2 separate regions of the Homo sapiens genome follow, and region 2 is linked to region 1. Evidence: fine-mapped expression QTL. A gene starts in region 1. The other region holds a variant in brackets. All regions are shown on one strand. Distances are between the middles of the regions. Region 1 holds the start of DCPH1 (damage control phosphatase 1). Region 2 overlaps CCDC170 (coiled-coil domain containing 170).

Region 1 (9,773 bases):
CAAAAATCAGCCGGGCATGGTGGCATGGGCCTATAATCCCAGTTACTTGGGAGGCTGAGGCACGAGAATGGCTTGAATCTGGGAGGCGGAGATTGCGCCACTGCACTCCAGAATGAGCAACAAAGCGAGACTCTGTCTCAAAAAAAAAAAAAAAAAAAAAAAAAAAGCCTGGCGCGGTGGCTCACGCCTGTAACCCCAGCATTTTGGGAGGCCGAGGCGGGTGATTCACAAGGTCAGATGTTCGAGGCCAGCCTGGCCAACATGGTGAAACCTCGTCTCTACTAAAAATACAAAAAAATTAGCTGAGCGTGGCGGCGGGTGCCTGTAATCCCAGTTACTCGGGAGGCCAAGGCAGGAGAATCGCCTGAACCCGGGAGGTGGAGGTTGCAGTGAGCCGAGATCGCGCCACTGCACTAAAGTCTGGGCGACAGAGTGAGATTCTGTAACGAAAAAAAAAAAAAAAAGCTAAACCCCTCAGAATGGCCTGCATGGCACTACATTATCTGTCCTTTATCACCACTTTGACAGCACTCTCCTTTGCTTATTTTGCTCCTCATTCTGGTCTCTGGATCTGTGCACTTGCTGTTCCTTACGCTCTTCTCCCAGGGATCTGAAAGGCTCACACCCTCACCTCCTTCAGATGTTTGCTAAAATGTCTTCTACCCAGTGAAGCCTTCCCCAACCACTACATTAAAAACACACAACCAGCCCTCTCCCTCTCCCTCCTCTCCCTCTCCCCACGGTCCCCCTCTCCCCACGGTCTCCCTCTGATGCCGAGCCGAAGCTGGACTGTACTGCTGCCATCTCGGCTCACTGCAACCTCCCTGCCTGATTCTCCTGCCTCAGCCTGCCGAGTGCCTGCGATTACAGGCGCATGCCGCCACGCCTGACTGGTTTTCGTACTTTTTTGGTGGAGACGGGGTTTCGCTGTGTTGGCCGGGCTGGTCTGCAGCTCCTAACCGCGAGTGATCTGCCAGCCTCGGCCTCCCGAGGTGCCGGGTTTGCAGACGGAGTCTGGTTCACTCAGTGCTCAATGGTGCACAGGCTGGAGTGCAGTGGCGTGATCGAGGCTCGCTACAACCTCCACCTCCCAGCCGCCTGCCTTGGCCTCCCAAAGTGCCGAGATTGCAGCCTCTGCCTGGCCCCCCATCGTCTGGGACGTGAGGAGCCCCTCTGCCTGGCTGCCCAGTCTGGAAAGTGAGGAGCGTCTCTGCCCGGCCGCCATCCCATCTAGGAAGTGAGGAGCACCTCTTCCCGGCCGCCATCCCATCTAGGAAGTGAGGGGAGTCTCTGCCCGGCCGCCCATCGTCTGAGATGTGGGGAGCACCTCTGCCCCGCCGCCCCGTCTGGGATGTGAGGAGCGCCTCTGCCCGGCCGCCCCATCTGAGAAGTGAGGAGACCCTCCGCCCGGCAGCCACCCCATCCGGGAGGGAGGTGGGGGTCAGCCCCCGCCAGGCCAGCCACCCCATCCGGGAGGGAGGTGGGGGTCAGCCCCCCGCCCGGCCAGCCACCCCGTCTGGGAGGGAGGTGGGGGGGCCAGCCCCCGTCCGGGAGGAAGGTGGGGTGTCAGCCCCCCGCCCGGCCAGCCGCCCCGTCCGGGAGGGAGGTGGGGGGTCAGCCCCCCGCCCGGCCAGCCGCCCCGTCCGGGAGGGAGGTGGGGGGGTCAGCCCCCCGCCCGGCCAGCCGCCCCGTCCGGGAGGTGAGGGGCGCCTCTGCCCGGCCGCCCCTACTGGGATGTGAGGAGCCCCTCTGCCCGGCCACCACCCCGTCTGGGAGGTGTACTCAACAGCTCATTGAGAACGGGACGGGATGACAATGGCGGTTTTGTGTAATAGAAAGGGGGGAAAGGGGGGGAAAAGATTGAGAAATCGGATGGTTGCCGTGTCTGTGTAGAAAGAAGTAGACATGGGAGACTTTTCATTTTGTTCCATACTAAGAAAAATTCTTCTGCCTTGGGATCCTGCTAATCGGTGACCTTACCCCCAACCCTGTGCTCTCTGAAACATGTGCTGTGTCCACTCAGAGTTGAATGGATTAAGGGCGGTGCAAGATGTGCTTTGTTAAACAGATGCTTGAAGGCAGCGTGCTGGTTAAGAGTCATCACCACTCCCTAATCTCAAGTACCCAGGGACACAAACACTGCGGAAGGCCGCAGGGTCCTCTGCCTAGGAAAACCAGAGACCTTTGTGCACTTGTTTATCTGCTGACCTTCCCTCCACTATTGTCCTATGACCCTGCCAAATCCCCCTCTGCGAGAAACACCCAAGAATGATCAATAAAAAAAAAAAAAAAAAAAAACACAACCAGCATCCATTCTCTTATCTTCCTCCACTTTGCATTTCTCCATTGTTTAACATCACTTGCACACCTTTAATTTTTAGTTTATTAATTCATACTGCAAACGAACTCAGTTCTTATCATGTGCCAGGTATTGTCCTAGTTGCTGACAATACAGCTGAAAATAAAATAGACAAAAATCCTATCTTTTGAATCTTTTGAACCTTGCATTGGGAGTGACAGACAAAACGAGGTAAATCAGTAAAATACGTGAGACACAAAGCTAAAGGAAAAAAATAAGAGGAAAGGGCAGATTTTTGTGTCTTCCTTCCAGAATGGAAGCTCCCTGAGGATACGGATTTGTGTTTTTTCCTATTATATCTCCTGACAATAGCGCCCAGCACATAGTAGGCATTCGATCGAATTTTTAAAATGAAATACAAGGCAGTTACTCAGTTCCCGGGCACATTTCAACTTTTAGAGAACAATTACACCAATTAAGAAAATCGATTACAGCTAGGCTACGATTCGAGAGCTAAGTGGCGCTCATCTTTGGGAGTATGCCGTTCAATTCCTCAAACTCAAAATTATTTTATCGATTTCTACAGTTACCGCGGTGCACTGGCTCAAAAAAAGGGTTCATTAATTGAGTGCTTTTTACTCCCAGCTAAGCTGACCAAAGATCACGGTAAGAGGCAAAGGGTCACAGCCGCACTGGCGTAACCCGTAACTGTACACGTTCCGGGCGGCCAGGAGCCAGGGCGCAGACCTCCAAGCCGGACCACTCGAGCTGCTAAAGAAAAGGCAATACACTAACCTCTCCGCCGGAAGAGAAGAAGGAAGCGCCAGGGACGCACGCTTCCTCGGCAGGACTGCAGGGAAAGAGCCGCACCCCCAGCCTCTCACTACTGCAGCCAACCCATCTCCTGGAAGGGCGCTCCCGCCCACCCCCGCTACTGCGCAGCCGCACTGAACTCTGGTCCCACTTAGCGGGAGAAACTCGGGCCACGTGACTGTCTGACCACGTGAGCCGCGTCGCCGCGACCTCTTCCGCTCCCTAGGCCCTGGGACCTCCCGGTCCCTTGCCTGCTTCCGGCTTTCGCTCGCTTCCATATCCGCTCCTCTAGTCGCCCTCCGCTGGCCCCGCCTTCGTCCCCGGAAGATTGGGTCTTCTGGCGAGCCACTGTTTGCCGTTTGATCGGGCACCAAATAAAGTTTCTTTATTCAAAAGCACTTTTTTTTTAAAGCCACACCACCCCCATTCTCAGCTCCTCCTTCGCGGCGGTACCGCCTCTGTTTCTGCGGCGATTGAACAGCCGAGCTTTGCGGCCGGGATCGCGGAAAGTGATGGCTGTCGTCCCGGCGTCTCTCTCAGGACAGGACGTGGGGTTAGTCTAGCTTTTCTCCTCCCCACTTTTGCGGAAAGCCGGGCCTCGCCGGGAGCCTGTGGGGACTAAGCGGAGGGCGCCCGCTCCCCGGTGGGCTGCGTTCGAGTCCCGCCGCCGGGCGCGGCTTTCCGGGGCGCCTTTGCGGGTTTCGCGGACTGGCTCGGAGGCGAAGGGAGGCGGCCCCGGGGAGGGAGCCTGCCCGCGGCGGCTGCTCGTAAGGATCAGGACAGGGGTCAGCTTCGCGGTCTGTTCCTGGCGGTCACTTTTTATTTATTCACTTTAATAGACGCGCTTTGGGGGCGTTAAAATTCTGCGTAAGAGTTGGGGATCTCAGCGCTATTAAGAAACGGGTTTCTCCCTGTTGTTGATCAAATCGTAATCTCACAGTAAGAACTGTCTAGTTTTTTGCTTTATAGTCGTCACGCTACTGATTCTTGGGTAAAGTTGTGGGTGACCGTGCAAATAACATCCATTTGCATAAATCGAATGGCCAAATTTATATTTGAAATTTGTCCTTACTTCAAAATATTGCAAAAGACGAGAACACTTTGAAGAAAATAAACCTGGGCAGAAAGTAGGTTGAGGCCAACAAAGTGGCGCCAATGGCCCCAAATTGAGGCAGTCACTGTTTCAGGTCATGCAAGTATAGAGAGTATCTCCTTCAATTTTGCGCCCTAGGGCTTCTGGCCTCACTCCAGTCCTGGCCAGAGACTTTGTTCCAGAGGTGCAGGAAATGTAGTAGTTAGGAAAACAGTAATACTTTCCAATTAAAGTAAAATCTCAAAAAAGGACTTACTATACCTACTGCCTGGGAAAATTCAAGTGACAGTTGATTTAATGTTCCTGCTCACCCTCTGAGGTATTAGTGATTTCTTTTATTAATGATTTTTAAAAATTAAATTCTGATCAACGTAGTTATTATGCGCATTAAAACCTAATCACTGTTTTGGGTGGTACTGAAAGCACCACAGAGTCGGAAAGTGTGTGCAGTTTTTTTCTTAAAGTTCTATAGCTATCATTTGAGGAAACCTTTTGAAGAAATACCCAAGTTACAATCTAGTAATTTAACAATTGTCTCCTGTGATCTGGAGATAAAAACACTAGTCAGCTAAGCTCTGTGCTCTATATTTAAAACTGCACAGAATTTCTCCACCAAATAAAGCTTTTTTTCTACCTGTATCATGTATTTCCTTAGAATGATATAAAATGATAATCTGTAAATCTTGGGTTTTGTATGAATAAAATCAAGAATATCTTTAATTTTTTAATGCAGGTATAAGTTTTTCTTCATCTCCAGCTTGCTTCATTCTTGAACACTTCTATAAAATCTCTGATTTTTTGAGTGGGAAGAGACAGTAGCACGCCTTCATTTGCTTAGGGGCAGAATAGGATGGAAGGAGTCCATTGTGCAGATAGAGAAGGCAGAGAAGGGGAAAATTTTTGAAAATAATTAAAATTGACTTAGAAAATAGACAGAATGGAGAGAAACAGGCTTAAAAGTACCTTTAATTCTTTATGTTGTTCAAGCACATTAGACCCTTTAGGTGGTTTTAGATGCATTGCTTCATTCATCTTTCTAAGCAGGTGACTTAGCAGATAGTAGACCTGGGACAAGAGCCTGTTTGATTTCTAAGCTAATCCATTCCCTATCCTATCACTTTGCTAAGCGAGTTTCTGATTTAGGAAAATAAAAGCAATAGAATAGGAAAGATAAGAATGATTAAACAGACTCCATGGGAGAATCTGGGATTAGAGGCACCAAGACAGTTTGGCTTCCATGACATACCAGCGAATTTTCCAGGTTTTCTTATGTCTTAATATAGTAATCATACAATACTTGTCTATCTTTTAATAGTTGTATGAGGAGTTTAATATACATGAAGTGTTCCAGAAACTAAAAGATAGCCAGTCTTCTAGTATTGATGCTGCTAAGTTATATATTGCATGTGACTCTTTTCTAGATCATTTGCATATCTTACAATTAAAGACAGAATACCACAGATCTTAACTAAGGTTATTGATACATTGCATCGACATAAAAGTGAATTTTTTGAGAAACACGGAGAGGTAAGAATTGTTTTAACTTTTAATTTTTTGTTAATTTCTCAACAGAAACATAATAAATAGTTCTTGAAGGTATCAATTTTCCTTTAAATGTAAAAATCAATAGATGGGCCAAGTATTTATTTGTTTTTAAGGTAATACATTGAAATGAAGATAGAACAGCCAATCTTCAATTTAGAAAATGATTGTGTTCCAATAATTAATTCTGTCAGTTATTTAGACTTCAGAATGTATTTTCTAATATATGCAATGTTGTAATTGGTGACTGGGCAACAGACTTGCAATTGACTTAGTCAAGTGACTAAGCAATTGAGTTGCTTAGAAGAGCTTTTTAAATTTCAAGTTTAATTTGAGTTGCAGTATTTATATTACTAATTTGAGATCTTGAGTCCTGGAAGTTCAAGCTGCTATGCAAAGCTCAGTGATATGAATTATAATTGATTGACACATTGTACTGATTCAAGTTGGGACTCATTAGCATTCAGTGCAGAATAGGACTTTAGAAATCACTTTGTCCATTCAATTAATGGATGAGGAAAAATCCAAATAACTATGTTATTGAAGGGGTGGGTTGCCCCTCCACACCTGTGGGTGTTTCTCGTAAGGTGGAACGAGAGACTTGGAAAAGAAAAAGACACAGAGACAAAGTATAGAGAAAGAAATAAGGGGACCTGGGGAACCAGCGTTCAGCATATGGAGGATCCCGCCAGCCTCTGAGTTCCCTTAGTATTTATTGATCATTCGTGGGTGTTTCTCCGAGAGAGGGATGTGTCAGGGTCACAAGACAATTGTGGGGAGAGGGTCAGCAGACAAACACGTGAACAAAGGTCTTTGCATCATAGACAATGTAAAGGATTAAGTGCTGTGCTTTTAGATATGCATACACATAAACATCTCAATGCTTTACAAAGCAGTATTGCTGCCCGCATGTCCCACCTCCAGCCCTAAGGCGGTTTTTCCCTATCTCAGTAGATGGAACATACAATTGGGTTTTATACCGAGACATTCCATTGCCCAGGGACGGGCAGGAGACAGATGCCTTCCTCTTGTCTCAACTGCAAGAGGCATGCCTTCCTCTTACACTAATCCTCCTCAGCACAGACCCTTTACGGGTGTCGGGCTGGGGGACGGTCAGGTCTTTCCCTTCCCACGAGGCCATATTTCAGACTATCACATGGGGAGAAACCTTGGACAATACCTGGCTTTCCTAGGCAGAGGTCCCTGCGGCCTTCCGGCCTTCCGCAGTTTTTGTGCCCCTGGGTACTTGAGATTAGGGAGTGGTGATGACTCTCAAGGAGTATGCTGCCTTCAAGCATCTGTTTAACAAAGCACATCTTGCACCGCCCTTAATCCATTTAACTCCGAGTTGACACAGCACATGTTTCAGAGAGCACGGGGTTGGGGGTAAGGTTATAGATTAACAGAATCTCAAGGCAGAAGAATTTTTCTTAGTACAGAACAAAATGGAGTCTCCTATGTCTACTTCTTTCTACACAGACACAGTAACAATCTGATCTCTCTTGCTTTTCCCCACATGTTATGTTAGACATAGGTCTTTAAACTTGTAGGTTCAGTAATCTTTCTATTACACAATAGACTGTAAAAGAGCATACATATACCAGTACATTTTTTTTGAGAGTTGAAAACAAAAATTTAGAGAAATGGTTGGTGATCTTTTCTCCTTGGCCAAATTGAAATGGAGCAAGATAACACACATGCAGTTTGAGTGTAATGTTCTACTTCTTTCAACTTCTTTTATATTGTCTTGTTTAAAACTAATCCTGGCATAACACAGGGATTACCTGTTGTTCCTTGTTGCTAAAATCCGGCTTAATTTAGACACTGACAATTATATTGCTGAATGGTTTTAATGTTTATCACATAAACATAATTTTGGTAACTGACATATCTTTATCACACAAGTATAATTTAGCCAAATTTGGATAGTTCACTTTAGTATTTGGTCATATACGCAAGCAAATTACCATAATACTTTTGTTTTTCTTGTTGTTGTTTTTTGAGACAGGGTCTTGTTCTGTCTACTAGGCAGAGTGCAGTGGTGCAGTCATAGCTCACTGCAGCCTCAAACTCCTAGATTCCAGCAATTCTCCCAGTTCAGCATCCTAAAGTGCTGGCATTACAGGCGTGAGCCACTGTGCCTGGCCCCATAATGCTTTTGTAATTTCAGTTTTTTCGGCCAGAGTGATCTAAAATGTAGTAATTAATGAAGTCCTAGTATATTGCTACTTGGCCTGTATGCCCGTAATCACCAGGTGACTGAAGGCAGAGTTTATTGTCTCTCCAGCCCTCCCCCATTTCACACTCTACTGAGCACAGAACAAGATGTAAATTGACACAGATAAAGTCTGCTTTTGGTAGCCTTTCTGTCCCTTTTTCATGCCTCTGTTATACCTATGGCCACTCTCCTTGGGCCTCATGTGTTCTAGCTTCCTAAGCCCCCACCTATAGCAGGGCCAGGCTTATCTCCGAAGGAGCCATGCCACACAGTTTTCTATCTTCCCCCACCTCAGCGGTCAAACGTCCGTGCCCTTAGACTACCTGGTTTGGCAGATGTGTGTCTCTTGGAGACAGGACCAGGCTTTATTCATCTTTCTCTGGCCCTGAGGTTAGTGTCAGGCACATACAGGGTTCAGTAAATGTTTGAATTCAATTCAAGTAAGTGAACAAAGTGGCAGTGACATCACTATTAATCCATTAGCCTTTTTAGGTATATGCTTCTGTAAAAGGGTGCCTGACACCCTGTAAAACCTCAGTTGTTGGAATTTATAGTTAAAGAGTTGAAGTTTAAGACTTTAGGGAAGAGATTTGGAGGAGGGGGAGTTCCTCTCAAAACAGTCAGCTACAACTTCTTTTCTTCTATTTCTGAACCTGCAGAATCTCGAAAGCTTCAATCTTTTTTTCTAGCAGCAAAATAAATTGTACTTGGAACAAAAGAAAGATTGGAGAGATGTTTATATTGAGAAAATTACAGATCTGAAAGTAGGGACTAAATATCAACATGATAAAAATGATCTTATAAAAATACTCAGGCTTGATGTTTATTCTCTACATTTTATTATATACGTGTCTTATTAGGCTTACATTTTCTTTTTTTTTAATGGAGCAGGAATCTTGCTAATGTAAAACCAAGGTGTGAAGTCATTTTCACTTCATTCTGATCCCATTACATTTGTCCCCACTCCAATTGGCCTGTTATGTGAGATAATATTGTAGTGCCTTGTTTGTCAGCATATGTCATCTCTCACCTAGCTAGAACTTGGTGGAAAACAAGTTAAAAAAAATTTGAGCTACCAAAAGAAACCTCAGAAAGCCCACAGTTTCTTTTCTAGTGGTGTCAATGGTGAAAGAAGAATATGTATGGAAGCATGAAAGACATGGAAAATCTGGCAGGGGTTCCTTTCCCTCTGTGGTAATGGTCATCCCACCGAAGATACAGAAAGGCCAGAACTTAGGTAGATAAGGCATGATTATGTTCATATGAGATCTGTGTGTGTTTTTTGATTTTCAGTTTAAGAGTTCTAAATGTAATGTTTAAAGAAATAAAATGTAGTTTTGAACATTTTTCTTTTCTTCTTAAGTCTGTAAAAATATGTTACCCTAGAGGAATTGCACAGACACACACACACACACAATTTATTTTTCTTGTATTTTTGCAGGAAGGCGTGGAAGCTGAAAAGAAAGCTATCTCTCTCCTTTCTAAATTACGGAATGAATTGCAAACAGATAAACCATTTATCCCCTTGGTTGAGAAATTTGTTGATACTGATATATGGAATCAGTACCTAGAATATCAACAGAGTCTTTTAAATGAAAGTGATGGAAAATCAAGATGGTTCTACTCACCGTGGTTGTTGGTAGAATGTTACATGTATCGAAGAATTCATGAAGCAATTATCCAGAGGTACGTGTGTAATCATCAACTATCAAATGTTTAGATAATTTATACTTTTTCTGAAATTGTAAAAGGATAAGTTTAAAAATAAGCACCAGTGGAAGCTTGAATTTGGTTGAGTTTAGCAAATC
Region 2 (9,773 bases), 60 kb after region 1:
AAGTGAAGTGAAAAAAATCCCATTTGGGAAGAGTTCTAAAATCTTTAACATGTGGAAAGATCTCTTTCTCTCTCTCTCTCTCCCCCCTTTCGCTCTCTCTGTCTCATCTATCTATCTATGTATCTATCTATCTATCTATCTATCTATCTATCTATCTATGAATGATAATGATGAATAAAGTGTCTCATCTCGTTGTCAACAGGGACTTCTCATTCCACCATTCCTTTCTCAGTGGCTATTCCATATGTGACATTGTTCCCAAATTTGCATTCATTATTCTTGACAGCTATACCCAATACCTCCCATGGAGGTAGATCCTGTACAAATGCTAAAAAACTGCTAGTTGCTTAAAATAGGACCTGAAGTTAATTAATTTTTTGAGTCCAGCCTAAGAAATTATCTTACTAACTTGAACAGATATTTTTAAGCTTCATAGAACTTTATATTAAACTAAATTATAAGCTCCCAAATCAACAAGATCCAATCTGTACATTTATGAATGTGTACAGTTATGAACGTGGAAGAATCCATTTTCCAAAAAGTGGTTAGAAAGAGATTTATGAATTAATTAAAATTAAATCAATTATTTGAGCTTAACATTACTTATGGAAATGCAAGTGATTGTTACAATAGTCTTGGAGACAGCAATATCAAGCATCAGAAAATCATTCAATTTAGGGAAAGGTGATCATTTCAACTTTTAGCCAGGCATATATGGGACAATAACATTGTGAGTAAGAGGCCAGGCGTGGTGGCTCACGCCTGTAATCCCAGCACTTTGGGAGGCCAAGACAGCTGGATCACAAGGTCAGGAGTTCCAGACCAGCCTGGCCAACATAGTGAAACTCCGTCTCCACTAAAAATACAAAAATTAGCCAGGCATGGTGGTGCGCGCCTGTAATCCCAGCTACTCAGGAGGCTGAGGTATGAGAATCGCTTGAACCTGGGAGGTGGAGGTTGCGGTGAGAAAAGATTGCACCACAGCCTAGGCAACAGAAAGAGACTCCGTCTCAAAAACAAACAAGCCCATAAAACAAATAAACAAACAACAACAACAAAAAAACATTCTGAGTAAGAGCATGGGCTTTGGCGTCAGAAAGTCTTGGTTTGAATTCTTACTGTGTCATTTTGTTCATTCATTCCTCAAATATTTACTGATACTCAGTCACTGGGGCTACAGTGATGAACCAGAAGCCATTCTTCTATCTCTGTGGTAGAAAAAGAGCTTCCGAGAAAAATTTCACACTTATGCTAATTCTAGAAATGAGTTATTTATTACAGTAAAAACTGAAGAAAAAGGCAAAACAAAGCATTTTAATGTTTTCTGATTAACAAGTGAATTTAAATGTCATATATCAGTGAGGTTACAGAATAAAGATACTGAAGTCAGAGAGGGTGTGTTAATATAATTTCCCATAATGTACGTCTGCCATGCAAAAAAAACCCTTGAGATTAAGATTCGATATTGCAAAGGAGGTGATGAGGAGCTTTTAAAGATAGAATGAGTTAAGGAAATAATTGCAAACTTATTAGTCAGGACACTCATAACAAGATACAGAAAAATCGTAAATTAGATAGAAAGGGACTTTCACCCTAACAAATATTAAGGTTTATAATTTTATAAGTAAGTTTTTTTTCTTCTTCTTTTTTTTTTATAGAGTCTCGCTTTGTCACCCAGGCTGGAGTGCAGTGGCACAATCTCAGCTCACTGCAACCTCCACCTCCTGGGTTTAAGCAATTCTCCTGCCTCAGCCTCCTGAGTAGCTGGGATTACAGGTGCCTGCCACCATGCCTGGTTAATTTTTGTATTTTTAGTAGAGATGGGGTTTCACTATGTTGGCCAGGCTGGTCTCGAACTCCAGACCTCAGGTGATCCACCTGCTTCGGCCTCCCAAAGTGCTGGGATTTCAGGTGTGAGCCACTGCACCCAGCCTCAAGGTAAGTATTTTATAGATGTTTTATAGTTTTGTCCTTACCTAATAAGATGTGGATGAACAATTCATGGCTTTGCCTCTCCAGTGTATCTTGGTCGACTGTCTACTACGCTTTCCAGTTCTTCTAAAACTCACTAACTTTGCTTCTAAGTTTTTGTCTAGCGAGGGCTAATTTTTAAAATAGGGGGTTTATTATTTCCTGGTTTTACAAGACGTAGTGAAATTCCATCTATACTTGTTCTAGGGGGCTATTGTTTGCCCCCTAGAGTATAACACTAGTAAAGTGTTATAATTAAGTTCAGCCAGGTATTTTTATCTTTGACGTGCTAACCCTGTAAAGTGACCAGAGGGAAGAAGCCTTTCTGTTTGTCTATTTATCTTCCCATCCATGTGCTCATTCATTTATCCATCCATTAATTTATTCAACAAACATTAAATGTATATTCATTCACCAGATATTTATGGGGTGTTCATTATGTGCTAGGAAATGTGCTTGGTGCTAAGGATAAAAATATAATTGATTTCTAGCTTCTGCCTTCAAACACACAACCTTGTAGCTGACTCGTTCATTTATTAATGCCCAACATATATTTCATGAGTGCATACTATCTGCCAGGCACTGTTGCAGACACAGTACTGGAAAACAGAGGGCCTGCTCTCACGGAGCTTACATTCTAGTAGGTAGACATAAAACACAAGATGTTTTTGAGAGGTCCAAGAAGATAAGATTTGAATTTTTGTTTATCTTAATCTTAATTTACATTTTTGTATATGTTTGGTACCGTGCATAATATGTACAGTAGTATATGTATATCTTTTTTATTTTTGAGACAGGGTCTCAGTCTCTGCCACCCAGACTGGACTGCGGTGGCACGATCAGAGCTCTTTGCAGCCTCGATTTCCTGGGCTTGAGCCATCTCCCACCTCAGCCTCCTGAGTAGCTGGGACCATAGGGACACTACCATGCCTGGCTAATTTTTTAATTTTTGTAGAGACAGGGGTCTCACCATGTTGCCCAGGCTAGTCTCAGACTCCTGAGCATAAGCAATCCTCTTATCTCAACCTCCCAATGTGCTGGGATTACAGGGGTAAGCCACTGCACCCAGCAGTATACCGTTTTTTTTTGTTTTTTTTTTTTTTTGAGATGGAGTCTCGCTCTGTTGCCCAGGCTGGAGTGCAGTGGCATAATCTAGGCCCACTGCAGCCTCTGTCTCCTGGGTTCAAGCCATTCTCCTGCCTCAGCCTCCCGAGTATCTGGGACTATAGATGTGTACCACCACACCTGGCTAATTTTTGTATTTTTAGTAGAGAGGAGGTTTCACCATGTTGGCCAGCCTGGTCTCGAACTCCTGACCTCTAGTGATCCACGGGCCTTGGCCTTCCAAACTGCTGGGATTACAGGCATAAGCCACTGCACCCGGACCCAGTAGTATATCATTTTAAAATAAACACATATTTAAATTTGTTTCATAAACTCATACCAAGAGCTTGCAGACAAAAACATTTACAAACCCCAGGGTAAAAGCATGGGTGTTAGGATCAGAGACTTGTGGGTTTGAATCCAGGTTCTGCTTTACTCGTTGCCTGTGGGTCCTTGGGTAAGCCCGAGTTCCTCCTCCTTTCTAAGAACTGTTGTAAGGGTTGAGTGCAATAATGTTAGTAAAGTGTTTAACCGAGTTCCTCCTCCTTTCTAAGAACTGTTGTAAGGGTTGAGTGCAATAATGTTAGTAAAGTGTTTATGTTGCGTCTGTATATACCAAGTCCTTAAAAAAAGGATGACTAATGTTACTACTATGATTATTCTTCGTGTGATAAATATTATAATACAGACACCTCTTAAAGGGCATATAGAAATATTGAGAAGGAACTGATTAAGCAGTGACCCTTAAAGTCATGAACCTATGGTACATAATTGGTGGGAGTGTAAGTTGGTGCTATTTTCTATGCAATGTGTATCAAAACAATTTTTATTTCCTTTGACTCAGTTGTTTCTTTTCCAGAGAAACAACTTTCCTCATCCTAAGGAAACAGTCAGAATTCTAACAGATTTATAATAGTGATCAATTAGAAAGAGAACGAAATGTCGAATC[G/A]CGGGAGAGTAGTCAACTTAAAATACAGCTTTATGATGGAATATTGTGCAGCTGTTAACATTTTAAAAGAACACTTGGGGAAATATTAATATTAAATGTAGAAAACAGGTTGTAAAGTTGTAGTTACAGTATAACCCCAATTATATTTTTAAAAAGCACATGATATATTTGTATTAGAAAAACACTATAAAGAAATGCATCAGACAGGGATGGTGGCTCACGCCTGTAATCCCAGCACTTTGGGATGCCAAGGCGGGCAGATCACTTGAGGTCAGGAGTTCAAGAACAGCCTGGCCAACATGGTGAAACCCTGTCTTTACTGAAAATACAAAAATTAGCTGGGCATGGTGGTGCACACCTGTAGTTACAGCTACTGGGGAGGGTGAGGCAAGATAATTGCTTCAGCCTGGGAGGCAGAGGTTGCAGTAAGCCGAGATCCCACCACTGCACTCCAGCCTGGATGATAGAGTGAGAGAGGCTCCGTCTCAAAAAAAAAAAAAAAAAAAAAAAGCCAGGCACCATGGCTCATGCCTGTAATCCCAGCACTTTGGGAGGCTGAGGTGGGTGAATCATTTGAGGTCAGGGGTTCTAGACCAGCCTGGCCAAGATGATGAAAACCCCGTCTCTACTAAAAATACAAAAATTAGCTAGGCAGTAGTGGCATTCGCCTGTAATCCCACCTACTCCGGAGGCTGAGGCAGGAGAATCGCTTGAGCCTGGGAGGTGGAGGTTGTGATGAGCCAAGATCATGCCACTGCACTCCAGTCTGGATGACAGAATGAGACCCTGTCTCAAAAAAAAAAAAAAAAAAAAGAAAAAAGAAATGCATCAAAATACAATAGAGTTATCTCTGATAAGACTGTGGGTGGCATTCATTTTTTTCATCGATTAGACAATCACAGAAATATTAACCAAGATAAATAAAGCAAGATGAGCATGTGGGCAGGAGTGGTAACTGGGATAAAAAGAAATTTTGACCAGCCTGGACAACATGGTGAAACTCCATCTCTAAAAAATTACAAAAATTAGCTGGGCGTGGTGGCACGTGCTTGTAGTCCCAGCTACCTGGGAGGTTGAGATAAGACGATAACTTGAGACTGGGAGGTCAAGTCTGCAGTGAGCCGTGATCATGCCACTGCACTCCAGCCTGGATGACAGAGTGAAATCCTGGAAAGAAAGAAACGAAAGAAAATGAAAGAAAGGAAGGAAGGAGGGAGGGAGGGAGGGAGGGAGGGAGGGAGGGAGGGAGGAAGGAAGGAAGGAAGGAAGGAAGGGAGGGAAATTTTGCCTGGGGATCCTAGGAAGCCTTCACAAAAATGCCAGTTCCAACTCTTGAATGGGGCCCAGACTTTTGCCCAGTGGAGAAGCAGCTTGTGAAGAAAGAGGAAGAACCCAGAAGGTGAAACAGCGATGAAAGCTCTGTGGCATGCCGAGACACATTTAATTTTTTCCATGTGACTGGAGGTCAGGCTAGATATTGGGCATTGAGGCAGAAACCCTGGGAATGTGGGTTTTGGCTGATAGAGAAGAGACTCACATACCTTAAGGAGTTTATTCCTTACCTTGTCTATCGTGGGCAGCTTTGTAGGTGGGGAAAGATGGATCAGGTCTGCATTTCAGAGTGGCTACTTTGTGGCAGCACAAAGGTTAGGTCGGCACAAAGTGAGTCGGAAGGGAGAGCAGTGAGGAGCCTCTTGCTTCAGTCTCCATTCTTTTTGGATGAAGCCTTGGCAGAACCATTCATTTCCATCCTAATATTGAAATGCCTTCACATTATTACATCAGCTTAGGCTATGTGACTTTTGAAAGCTTGGTAGGTTGGTGTCAGATAAATGAGGCCTTCACACTCACTCACCTGGTCTCTGCAAGAAACTGGATCAAGGTGATGAGGAATGCACTCTTAATACCTGAACAAGAGGTCTTGGAAATTGTGTTTCTTATATTAACTAAACAAATGTAGTCAAATGCTATTATAAAGGATTGGCTGAAGAATATGCATTTCATTCATTCTATGCTCTACTTCAAAATTATCCTTGAAATGCAAGAGCCTGGGAGAGATGTCTACTTGGACTACATTGTTTGGACCCTGTTTTAGGCATTGGCATTACGCCATTAGATTTGTAAATCAAAAAGTATCTGAGACAAGTCTCCATCAATTTATTTACTTATTTATTGAGACGGAGTCTCACTCTGTCACCCAGACTGAAGTGCAATGGTGTGATCTTGGCTCACTGCAACCTCTGCCTCCCAGGTTCAAGCGATTCTCCTGCCTCAGCCTCCCAAGTAACTGGGACTACAGGTGCACATCACCACACCTGGCTAATTTTTGTATTTTTAGTAGAGACAGGGTCTCACCATATTGGCCAGTCTGGTCTGGAACTCCTGACCTCAGGTGATCTGCCTGCCTTGGCCTCCCAAAGTGCTAGGATTGTAGGCGTGAGCCACTGTGCAGGTGGGAAGCCCAGGTTCTTGTTATATAGATGATGCCTCCAGGTAGCAGGCTTCAGAGACAATAGATGGTAAATGTCTTCTTATCAGACCAATAAAAGGTGGTAGACTCTCCTGAAAAGACCTAATAAAGGAGAGAGATTCTTTACAGAATATACATTTCCTTCACAAGAGACAGCTTTGCAGGACCACTTAAAAATATGACAAAGAAAGTGTGGCGCAGTGGCTCATGCCTATAATCTCAACTCTTTGGAAGTCCGAAGCGGGTGGATCACGAGGTCAAGAGATCAAGACCATCCTGGCCAACATGGTGAAACCCTGTCTCTACTAAAAATACAAAAATTAGCTGGGTGTGGTGGCACATGCCTGTAGTCCCAGCTACTCGGGAGGCTGAGGCAGGAGAATCACTTGAACCCTGGAGGCAGAGGTTGCAGTGAGCTGAGATCGCGCCACTGCACTCCAGCCTGGTGACAGAGCAAGATTCTGTCTCAGAAAAAAAAAAAAAAGAAAAGACAAATATATTTTGAGGTAAAATACTTCGATTTCTTTCAGGGCTGTTATCTGTCATATAATGCTATACTAGAGTCAGGTTGGAATTTGGTATCTTATTGCTACAGGAGTCTGTTCTCTCAGTCTTAAGATCTCTGTTTTAATGTTAATGCTGGTCAGTTGTGTCTGAATTCCAAAGGGAGAAGGGTATAATGAAGTATGTTGGGCCTCCATTTTCCATCAAGGCTTGAACTAGTTTCAGGTTTACTTTGGAATGCCCTTGGCCAAGAGGAGGTCTCCATTCAGTCAGTTGGAAGGCTTAGAATGTTATTTTTAGTTGATAGATTGTTTTGTGGGTTTTGAAATTTGTCATGATTTCTTGTCATGAATGGGTGTGTTGTAACTGAGCAGGTTCTTTGCTTTACCATGAGGTCCTAGTAAATCATGTTGAAGCGGTGTTGTTGTCTAGGGTAAATACCCAGGGTTTGTCATCTCGCACCAAGAAGATTAAGGACACAGACACACATGAGGAGTGAGTTTAGGAGCAGAGGTTTGATAGGCAAAAGAAAGAGAAAGAAGAACAGCTCTCTCCCTTGAAAGAGAGAGGAGTTCCTGAAAGGGAAAAACTGGTCAGCTCTAGACTGTACCAGATTTTACAGGCAGGCTTGAGGAGACAGTGTCTGATTTACGTAGGGCCCAGAGATTGGTTCAACCAGGTGCGATGTTTACCTAGTGCGTGGGGAAGGCTGGTGGTCCCACCCTAATCTTATTATGCAAATGGAGTCTTTGCCTGGCTGGTGCCATATTGTCTTTTCCTTACTGTGCACATGCTTTGGCAAAAAGAGAGAAGATGAACATGCCTAGTCCCAGGAAGCCTTTTCCTTTTGGCACAACTGCCAACTTCCACCCATGCAAGCTTCCAGCTTACTTGTCTATGCCTGCAGCTTGATTTTACAAGCTGCTCTTTGTTAGGAAAGAAAATGATTTTGGGGCCGGGCACAGTGGCTCACGCCTATAATCCTAGCACTTTGGGAGGCCTAGGTGGATGGATACCTGAGGTCAGGAGTTGGAGACCAGCCTGACCAACATGGAGAAACTGTCTCTACTAAAAATACAAAATTAGCCAAGTGTGGTGGCACATGCCTATAATCCCATCTACTCGGGAGGCTGAGGCAGGAGAATTGCTTGAATCTGGGAGGTGGAGGTTGCAGTGAGCCAAGATCACCCCATTGCACTCCATCCTGGGCAACAAGAGTGAGACTGTGTCTCAGTAAACAAAAAACAAAAGAAAATTATTTTGGGGCTGCTTTTCATTTAAAAGAAAACCTTACTGAGGACTCCCATACCCTTACTAATGATTTCTTCTTCTTCTTTTTTTTTTTTTTTTTGAGATGGAGTCCTGCACTGTCACCCAGGCTGCGTGCAGTGGCACAATCTCGGCTCACTGCAGCCTCTGCCTCCTGGGTTCAAGCAATTCTCCTGCCTCAGTCTCCTGAGTAGCTGAGATTACTGGTGCCCAACACCATGCCTGGCTAATTTTTTTTTTCTTTTTGTATTTTTAGTAGAGACGGGGTTTCACCATGTTGGTCAGGCTGGTCTCGAACTCCTGACCTCGTGATCCACCCACCTCGGCCTCCCAAAGTGCTGGGATTACAGGCGTGAGCCACCGTGCCCGGCCACTAATAATTTCTTCTTAACTCCTGTATCAATGTGACTCATGTCTGTCGACTTGGAAGGGCCAAGTCAAGCTGTGGTCTACCTCTAGGAAGTGTACAATACTCACAGCACATATATAATACTCCTGTGCTTCCTCTTATTTTTTCCCTCCTTTAATTTTTCTTTACGGCCATTTGCTTCTTTTTTTTTTTTCATTCTTTCTTGTTTTCACACTGGATAAGAAATAGCCCTTAAGCTTTGGATGGAAATTAAAGGAATTCTCAAAAATCCAGGCCTTTTGCAAACAGTAAAGATTATACGAAACACTAGCAAGGTGGGGCCTTGCCTTCAGTTTATGGTCCTGCCATGGTACAGGAGAAGCATGTCCCAGAACAGCCACAGAGTCCAGAAGAAGGCAACCTTTCTCCTTTTGACTTGTAGTTATGGTATACATCCATGTTTTTTAGTTTGTTAATGCTTCTGGGTGGACCAGGCTGAGATGGAGTGTTGCAAGCTATCTTTCTTAGTGTGGGAAAATCTGTGCACTTTCTAAGCCAGCCCATCTCCAGGGGGTGGGATCTTGGAGAAATCAGGCAGCTCCAGGGGCTGAGGGGATTTGGTTTAGCAGATGAGAATGGGACGAGACTGTCAAGTCAATCAAATGTGAGGACTAAGATGTTAGTAAAAAAAGCATACATTTGTTACCAGGAAGGAGTCCCAATCCAGACCCCCAAGAGAGGGTTCTTGGATCTTGTTCAAGAAAGAATTTGGGTGAGTTCACAGAGTAAAGTGAAAGCAAGTTTATTAATAAAGTAAAGGAATAAAAGGGTGCCTACTCCATAGGCAGAGCAGCCTCGAGGGCTGCTGGCTGGCTATTTTTATAGTTATTTCTTGATTATGTGATAAACAAGGGGTATATGTATCAGGGGAACCAGCCCCCAATATTTCAACGTAGGTTCTTTCTATTTTCCCTAAGGGTCAGGCGGCTGAGAAATAAAGAGAAAGAGTACAGAGAGGAATTTTACAGCTGGGCCTCCATGGGTGACATCACATATCGGTAGGACCATGATGCCCACCTGAGCTGCAAAGCCAGCAGGTTTTTATTAAGGACTTTAAAAGGGGAAGGGGTGTACAAACAGGGAGCAGGTCACAAAGA

The links.
Region 2: its variant is fine-mapped to the expression of DCPH1 in whole blood (TOPMed, PIP above 0.99).

What each region holds. Positions count from the first base shown.
Region 1 is chr6:151,448,922-151,458,694 of GRCh38, forward strand. It overlaps DCPH1 (damage control phosphatase 1), which reads left to right and starts at 3,545. Exons shown (of 5, transcript NM_024573.3): 1 at 3,545-3,665; 2 at 5,627-5,732; 3 at 9,407-9,651. The coding sequence starts at 3,625. RMND1 (required for meiotic nuclear division 1 homolog) reads right to left here and starts at 3,205. Exons shown (of 12, transcript NM_017909.4): 1 at 3,095-3,205. RefSeq lists enhancers at 2,933-2,982, 3,173-3,622, 6,481-7,238 and silencers at 3,783-3,902, 6,873-7,167.
Region 2 is chr6:151,509,103-151,518,875 of GRCh38, forward strand. The region is part of intron 1 of CCDC170 (coiled-coil domain containing 170); the gene reads left to right. Among named protein-coding and RNA genes, the nearest start is that of CCDC170, 20 kb to the left of the region's middle. The variant G/A (reference allele first, on the strand shown) is at 4,025.